Regions from separate parts of the Homo sapiens genome. Here region 2 is linked to region 1. Evidence: fine-mapped expression QTL. A gene starts in region 1. The other region holds a variant in brackets. All regions are shown on one strand. Distances are between the middles of the regions. Region 1 holds the start of SPRED1 (sprouty related EVH1 domain containing 1). Region 2 has its middle 58 kb from the start of LINC01852.

The links. PIP is the estimated chance that this variant, and not a neighbour inherited with it, causes the effect.
Region 2: its variant is fine-mapped to the expression of SPRED1 in whole blood (TOPMed, PIP above 0.99). The same link has a PIP of 0.9 or more in monocytes after R848.

Annotation. Positions count from the first base shown.
Region 1 is chr15:38,250,316-38,254,704 of GRCh38, forward strand. SPRED1 (sprouty related EVH1 domain containing 1) reads left to right here and starts at 2,521. Exons shown (of 7, transcript NM_152594.3): 1 at 2,521-2,902. The coding sequence starts at 2,871. RefSeq lists silencers at 933-1,227, 991-1,040, 1,871-2,170, 2,181-2,230, 2,331-2,430 and 2 more.
Region 2 is chr15:38,128,947-38,133,335 of GRCh38, forward strand. No RefSeq gene overlaps it. Among named protein-coding and RNA genes, the nearest start is that of LINC01852, 58 kb to the left of the region's middle. RefSeq lists enhancers at 1,066-1,115, 1,246-1,375. The variant T/C (reference allele first, on the strand shown) is at 2,339.

The sequences.
Region 1 (4,389 bases):
GTTCTAAGTAACTCTGTATATTATTATCTCGTTCATCAGCACAACAGCTGTGTAAGTTAAGTACTATTATCCCCATTTTATGCAGGCCCAGAGTTTCAGTAACTTGGATAAGAACACAGATTATAACTGATGGTACTTGACTGAAACTTGAGCAGCCTAACTGGTTAACAGTAGTCCTGGAAGGGGAAGAGGCCAGTATCAACACTCCCATGTATAAGTTCTTGGCAAGAATAAGTTCAAAAAGGCAGGTTTAGAGGTCATGTCTAGCACAGACCATCATCAACATTGCCCCTCTCTTTCTCAAGAGTAAGGACAATGCTGCTGCTGAGGCAGGAATCAAGTTACATAAAGAGACCTCAGAAATCAATGGGATGGTTTTTTGGGTACATTGACTGGTTTAGCGCCTCTGTTCATTCGTCAAACATTTATTAAGCACCTGCTACGTGCAAAACACTGTTAACAGTGCACTACTGTGCACGCTCATTCTCAGAACAACAATCCTGCGATTCCTGGAGAGGGATGGTAGAAGAGGAGTGCTGCCTTGTTAACGAGGTTCTCCCAACTTCTTTTTTTCCTCGGGAATTGTTCTCTTTAATGTGGCACCAGCGGCAACCTTCATTCTTAGGTCGCACAAATCTGAGAAGGAAGAGAAAAACATTGCACGCAGGGCGAGACTTATATCTGGGAAGATGCGTCAGGAACTTGGGAGCACTTGGGATTCAGTCCCCTAAGGTGGTTCATGTACAGGCTGGTTTTCTAAGTGGAGAACAGATAATAGAATTTGCAGAGCCAGGAGCTCTGACTCCTGTGGCTGGGCTGACCTTAGGCTCCAGCCCGCAACCCCAGTAGGTTTCTGTGCAAAAATCTTTTGAGATGAATGCATACTTTGTCTTCTAACAATGCATTCGTGACAGCTGTCTATCCAATCGGTCCGCCTCCGTTCAGAGCAGTTCGTGCCACAGAAGCATCTCCTGCGCTATAGTTATGCAACCTCACTCGCAGCGGGAGTTATTTCCTCCGTTCTGGCTGCGCCAGATTCATGTAACACGCCTACCCTGGGCTTCAATGGAAGTCGTTCTCCATTAACAATCACTCCAGCTTTCCGAGATGAATGCCCTGATAGCATACCCCTTGCGCAGTAAGAATCCAGGCAGCGAGGCGAGGTGTTAAAACACACATACATTCTCATATTCTCTCTCTCTCTCTCTCACACACACACACACACACACACACACACACATACACTTCGTGCATGCAGCTAGGGGACTGCAGCAGTGCAACCAGGGGGACAGCAGGAGGAGCTCTCTTTGCAGTCCCTGCTTCTAACCCCCACTAACTAAAGATGAACTCATGCCAGTTCCATTCTTTGCTCTGCAAAGAAAACACACACACACACACACACACACACACACACACACACACACACACGGCAGAAGAGAGTAGCCTCCAGATTTCCCCTCTGAGCACACTGTCTTTCTAGCCTCTTCGTTCAAGCAACCCGGATATTCCAAGCAGAGTAACGGGGAGTAACGCGCCACAACAATGCAACCTCCCTAGCAGCTCCCCTCGCAGCTCCCACCCCCGCCCCCTTTCGCGGCGTGCCAAGAGTTTGGAGCGCGCGCACGCACACCGAGCACGGTGCAGGGAGGATATCCCTCCGCCTCCCTCCCCCTTTCTCCGCTAAGTGGCTCGACAACGATTTGGGAAATGAAGGGAGGAGGGAACTACTTTCCTGAAACTTGCTATGCTGCACATGACTTCGAGTTGCAGTGATTCGCCCGGAGGCCGCGGCTTTTAGTCCTACCCACACACCCTCACAGCCTGGGCACCCCGCTCGGCAGCCCCACCCCGCGCCCGCTCTGGCCTCCGGGGAAAGCGGGCGGCCGGGAGAAGTCGCGAGGGACTACTTCGCCTCCTTCTCTCGCGGGCGCCCCCGGTTCGGGCAGCGGCTGCGGCGGCGGAAGGAGCGGGCGGCGTGAGCGCTTCCGCCGCCCCCCTCGCGGCTCCCCTCTCTCGGGCGTGAGGAGCTGGCCCGCTGAGCTGCTGGTGGGCACTGGCTGGCGGGGAACCTGCAGCCGCTCTTGTCCTCTCCCGCCGCTTCTCGGGATCCTGCCCCCCGGACCCGGGCCCGCCCGCTCTTCTCCGGCCGGGTGGGAACGATCGGTTTGCCTGCCCCTCGCCTCACACGCTCCCCGCCGCCCCCTCCACCCCCCTGAGGAGGAGTCCCGGCTGGAGCGTGTCTGGAGGAATCCGCCGCCGCGGGGCCCCTAGCCCTGCTCTGCCGGCGCCTGAGGACCGACCCAGACGCCGCCGGGGGTTGAGGGGCAGCCGGCGGCGAGGCGGGAGATGGTGGGGTGGGCTCCGGCAGGACCGCGCCGCCGCTGCCCGGAGCCTGGGCTCGGCACCCCCCCGCCGGCCCCCACCGAGCGGAGCTCTGCTTCCTCCTCGCCGCATCCCTGAGGGAAGCGCCGCCTCTGCTCCCGGGTTCTCCGCCCGCCGACTCCTTCCTGGCCGGACCCCGCTGCGCTCCACCCCAGTGGCTGGAGGAGCAGCTCTCCAGTCAGCCTTTGCAGCCCCTCTCTTTTTCCCTTTCCACCGGGCCTCCTCGGATCCCTTGGCTGGGCACTGAGGCGGGGGAAGAGGCTGGGGTCGCCACGGCGGAGGTTGCTGCCGCCACCCCCCTGCGGGGGTGGCCGGGGTTCCCGGCTGGGGGGGTACCGTTCTGGGTGAGGCATCCACCATGGTGAGGCCCCTGTGCCGCTGCCCCCGCGCCCCCCCGGCCGCCGCTGCCTCCTGCCCCTCGGTGCTGCTGTTGCTCCCCCGCCTGCTGTTGCTCCTCCATCTCCAGATCGGATCACGGTGAGGGAAAGATGAGCGAGGAGACGGCGACTTCTGACAACGAGTAAGCGCCTCATTGATCTCGATTGCTAATCCCCCTCCCCCTATCCGCCCTCGGCTCTCCCCCAGACCCATCCGAAACTTGGGTGCCGGAAAGCTTGCGACCCTGGAGAGTTCGGTGCATCTTCTGGAGATAGCTGATTTCTTTAGCCATTTTTAGTGGCAGCACCCCTCCCCATCCTCCCACATTTAGCTGCTTTCTTTTGGGGTAGGGGATTAAGTGTTGGGAGAGGATGGCAATTGTACGTCTATGAGAGGGAATAATGTGGATGGATGGAAGTGGAGTAGAAACTACCCCTTTGCCTGTGAGACCCCTGTCCCGTCCTTTTTCACTCACATACCAGTCACCATACCTTCAGTATCCATCCTACTTCCTTTATAGCTGTTTCACTTGGAAACTAATGTGTGGGAGCACCTCCTGCAGCAAACTGCTCTTGAATCTTAATTCGATGAGTCAGTGACTCTTAAATACCGATTAAGCCTTCACCCTCTCCCCCCTCCCCCTTTTAAACTTATGACCTGTAAGATTCTTGTAAAAAATAGGGTTAGGGAAACATTTTTAGAATTTAATAGGATTAAGGACACCTGGAGTGTGGGCGATGTTGAGCTAGAGTTTACCTTTGTGAATATTGGACGTGTCTTCAGGAACGGAGAAGAATTTTGAATGCTAATTTTTACCTTTCAGCTATGTGAAAACACATGATTTACGTTGATGTAACCGAATTTACATTGCTGAATATGTTGGTGATTTCATTAACTTTTAGAGCATTCCGGTTTAAGTTTTAGCTTATTTGGGCTTTCTCCTTGCTTTCCAAACGAAATACTTCGTCTTTTAAATGTTTTGCTTTAACGTGACAGCTGCGTGGAGAAATAATGGTTGGCAACACTTTTCTATTGAGAAGGGATTTAATTCCAAGCAGAATATTAGCATCCGTTTTCTTGTAATTAAGTTCAACTTTTGTTTATCTTCGGAGGGTTGGAAAGAGTTAAGTGAGTTAGGACTTAGTCATTTGGATGCATTCCTTTAAATACAGTGCATTACTAAAGTCAGACCTTTTTGAAATAACTTTTTAAAGTCTGTACCGAGTCCTGTTTAACGTAAAATAGCTAGAGAAAGGCCAAACAACATTTCCTCCTCCCTTACTCCCTCCCCACCCCAAAACACACGCTTCTGCTGAGCGGGTGTAGAAGGAGGTACATTGCTGCAGTGTCAGTGCAGTGTAGAAGCAGAAGTGGCAGCCATGTTCTGTCTCTTTTTGTGAATCGCCCTCATTTGCATAGCACACTCTTCATTCATAAAAAAAATAATTAAACATCCATCACCTTGGACATCTTGAAAGGATTTCCCAAGAAAAAAAATTCGCGGCTTATTTGTCTGTGTGTAGATTTTTGAGTTCAGAAGGTAAGAAGAATGTGAAATTTTAGGTTAAATTTAAAAACATACGCACACACAAACAACTACCCCTGTTCTGAGAATGTTGACACAGTTAT
Region 2 (4,389 bases), 120 kb before region 1:
ACTTTCTCAGAATTAGCCATTTTCAAAGATTTTGTAAATAAAATAAAATAACACATGGTACTAAAATCATGCTTGAACATAACTTGATTTTTCAAAGATGTGTGCTCTGCTTTATGATCGTCTCCAGAAAGAGCAGTCCTGGTTTAATAGGATCAGAATGTGTAGCCTATGGAGCCAGAATTAAATGGTTCAAAGCGTCCTTCCAAAGTTGCTTTTTAAATAAATCCTTGCTTATTTGTTTATTTTTAGCTTGCCATTTGTCACAAGTTGAGGGGGAAAACAAATTCCACTTATTTAAGATTTTTATTTTTTTCTGATTTTGTTTACATTGCTCATCCTGGCCTTTAAAAAATATCTTTTAAATTTTATCTGGCTCATTTTGACCTATTTATATCATGTGCTTATCCCCCATTTATAGCTGTGTTAATAGGCATAGACAAGCCAGTAGTATCTCCTTTGTAAAATAGCAAAAATAACTGCTTTTTTTTTTAGTCCAACCAGCTCACACTATTAGACATATAGAGCACATTTGAGTCAAAGTCCTCTTCCTCAGAAACCCTGTTGTTACCATGGGAAAACTGTAAAAATGCTCAAATGTGGGCATGTTATAATTAGAACCAAACGTGGGCTTTATGGGACCTGTCATGATGTTTCTAGGAAGCTAGTTCTGCGTTGGCTTCATAAGACATCCTTTTCCTACAGTCATGACTCACTCCTCCTTCTCCTCACTCACCCCCACTTGTTCTGGGGTGGAAGAATGCCCAAATGCTCCAGAGACAGATGCGTAGGCGGATGTCCAGTCCACTAACGAGAACACACTTCTAGGCATTGTGGAAGTGGGACAAAGGGTTTTGCTGGGCATATTCAGAGCCAACAATGTGATGGTTATATGTTTATCACACATGGAGAGACTCATTTCTTTGGCAACCAACCCTAGCCTACTCACTAATCCACCCAACCCCTCCCATCCCTCCCTCCTTTCTTCCTTTCAGGAAAGCGTGTGCAAGTTCTCCGCAAAATGATGAATCTCTGCTCCTCAGGGGAATGTACGAATCAGAAAAGCTTTTAAAAAGGAAAGAGGAACCAAAGCCTTTGCATAAGTAGGCCAGCTGCAGAGCCTTAAGAGAGAAGGGAGGGGAGAAATCTCCTTGCGGCCATGGCCCCAAACCTCCCGGCTGCCACTTGTCTCCATTGTCTTCCCACAACCCCAAACAAGTCAGCCCACACCTCCGTGACTGCACCCGCTGTCATTTTCAGGAAAAGAGATTTTCTGAGCCCATCTTGGCATTTCTGTGAAATCACAGAAATAATTCATTGAATCACAGAACTGAAAGAGATGATCTAATCACTTTTATTTTTAAGATGATGAGAATGCCACCAGGGGAGTTTCACTGACCTGTCCATGCTCGCACAGATCTGGAAACACAGAGCCAGAACTAGAGTCCGGATCTCCTTGTCCTACTCTTTCGTCTTTCTCACATGGGCTTGTAAAAGCAAATCGTTCTGTAGATACACTCTTTTCGCCTCAGTTCCCTGGCTAGGTTTCCTTTAAAGCTTGCTTCTTCTTCGCCTGGTGTGACGTATAACGGGCATACAGATGAGCTGAGGCTGATTATAAAGACTCATCTGTAGTAACTGTTAAAAATGGAGATTCCCAGGCCTTTCCCTGGGAGATTCTGGAATAAGGCTAAGGAATTGTTTAACCAGTTTCCTGCATGTGTTTTATGATAAAGCCAGTTGAGGGAATAATGTAGTAGAGGGACGCTGGAAAAAAAAAAAAAAAAAAAAGTATGTTTGACAGGCAGCGTGTCCCAATAAGAATAGAACAAGGGCATGGAGAGGACCAGGAATTTTGCCTTCTAGCTGCTTTTTCAGTGGGTTAACCACTAGACCACACTTCCTCTCTAGGAGAGGCAAGGGATTAAAATCAAAGGTTTGCCACTGATTCATGCTGCCTGCTAATGCTGCTTATTGCGCCATGCTGTGACCCTAAGCTCTCTGGCTTGGAAACAGATGTGGGGAGTGAGAGGCCTGAGGTACTGGGGGATGGAGGAGGCGGGGGAAGGCAGACGGCCAGGGAAAGAACTTCCTCTGCTGCAAAATTTCAGGCAGGAGTGGAAGTCAGTCTAAATTGTTACCATGCAGATCTGGAATCATTTTTGCAATCTCCTGGCTCCAATTCCAGGTTTGTGCATTCTGCAACAAGAACTGAAAACTTGTTAATTAATGCTCCTCGCCTGACTTTTGCCTCTGCCCTCGTCTGAATACATATTAATATTACACGTTTAGCTTGACAGTCATTTCATTAGGCAAGAGAGTTTGGTTACCCTCCTACTCT[T/C]GCCCCATTCTCTCCCCCGTGCACACTTTAAAAGGAAGTACAGAAGAGTTAAGCAATTTGACCAAGGTTACGCTGATCTCAATATTGTAGTAGTTTGAGTAAAAGTGTAACCGAGACATTTTCAACTAAGCTTTTCAGACTGCCTTCAATATATTCTTATCATTAGGCAACTGAAAAAATGTTTTGGATTTATTTTCTCCTATGTGATGAGTACATGACATGTCCTTGGGCCTGTAGTTTACCACGTCAATGTTTATCAAAAACATGTAGGCTTTGAGTGTTAAATATCAATTCTAGAAATAGTTTTTGTACCTTCTCTGCTCATCTGGAAGTTCCATGAAGGCAGGGTGGGAATTTCAGCCTTGGTTGTCACTAGATACTGCACATGCGGTAGTGCTTAATGGCCAGGGGGTATAAGAGCTGGATTTTAGGTCTGTAGGAACTAGAGTTCTCAGATTTAACAAAGAAAAAAGCAGGATGGCCAGTTTAATTTGAATTTTGGGTTTTAAAAATGTTAATATGAGCAAGTCTCATGCAATGTTTGGTAGATACTCATATTCAACAATCATTGGGTTGAAAAAATATGATAAGTTTAGTGTAGCTGGAGCATCTAGTCTGTGTGTATTTAGCAAGGGGGCAGGGTTGATCAACATCAAGAGGTAAGGTTTGAAGTTTTTATTGGGGGAGCCTTGTGAAGTGCCTTTATGCCATGCATATGTTGGTGGAGAGAGGAGCCAGCAAGAATTTTTCAGCTGAGTGGTATGATCATTGCTGTTTTTGAAAGATAATTCTGTGGCAGATTGGAGTGGGTAGAAATTGTAGGCAGGGGGACCAATTAGGAGGTTATTGAAATAGCCTGGGCAAGGAAGGATGAACTTATTTCAACTAAGGCAGTGGTGGTGGAAATAGTGAGAGAAATTACAGGGACATGTAGGTGATAGAATCAACAAACCTTGTTGATTGATTGCCTAAGGACAGTAACATAGAGGATGGAGTTAACATAGTGTAAATCTCCAGACAAACAATAGGCATTGTTTTTAATCTAATTGTCTATCTGTAGAATGGGCTGACAATACTGACTCTACTTACTTCATTAGGCTATTGTGAAGACCAATTAAGATCATTTACGTGAAAGTGTTTTTTGACTATAAAGTGCTATAAAATACACCGTTGTTAAGAGTATATGCATCTATCTCAGTAGACACTGAACTCTTTCAGGACAAAGATTACATTTTGTTCATCTTTGGTACCCCCAGCACCTAGCACACTGCCTTGAATGTATAGATCACCAACACATTTGGAGCATCAAACCAAATTTGAAATTCTACCCTGAAAAACCAAAGTAATAAACACAGTTTTTCAATGGATCTGGCTTGGTGAAACCTTCAACAAAATCAGGGCTACAAATTCCAGGAGAAATGCCCACTTAAGGAATGCTGATGCTGAAGACAATCTCTTTCTCTTTGTTCACAGACACACTAAACACTGACGGCCATCTTAGCTGCTCATCTAGCTTTCCCTCTTTGTATCCCTCCCATTATAAATTATTTAAAATCCTAAAGAAATAATCACTTATCAAGAGGTCAGGAGATCGAGACCATCCTGGCTAGCATGGTGAAATCCCATCTCTACTAAAAACACAAAAAAATTAGGTTAGCGTGGTGGCACACACCTGTAGTCCCAACTACTTGGGAGGCTGAGGCAGGAGAATCGCTTGAACTGTGTCTGAAAAAAAAAAAAAAATCACCTGACCTGTTTTAGATATCACCCTGGTAGTGTCTGGTAAGTCCCACTAGACTCTTGAGCTTAGCTTAGTTTAGGTGAGGAATACTCTGTCCTTTATCTCTGTATTTCTGTATCTACCACCAAGCCTACTCTGTGGTTGGTGCTCAATAATAATCTTATAAATAAAAAAAGATAATAATTTGCAAATTAAATACCACTCAAACTTTGAATATGTCCAAGTCTCTATTTTCAACCAAGCAAAAAACTTGTGAATTGTATTGCAAAATATAGGTACCACATTTTCAAATAATTTCATTGGAATTTTA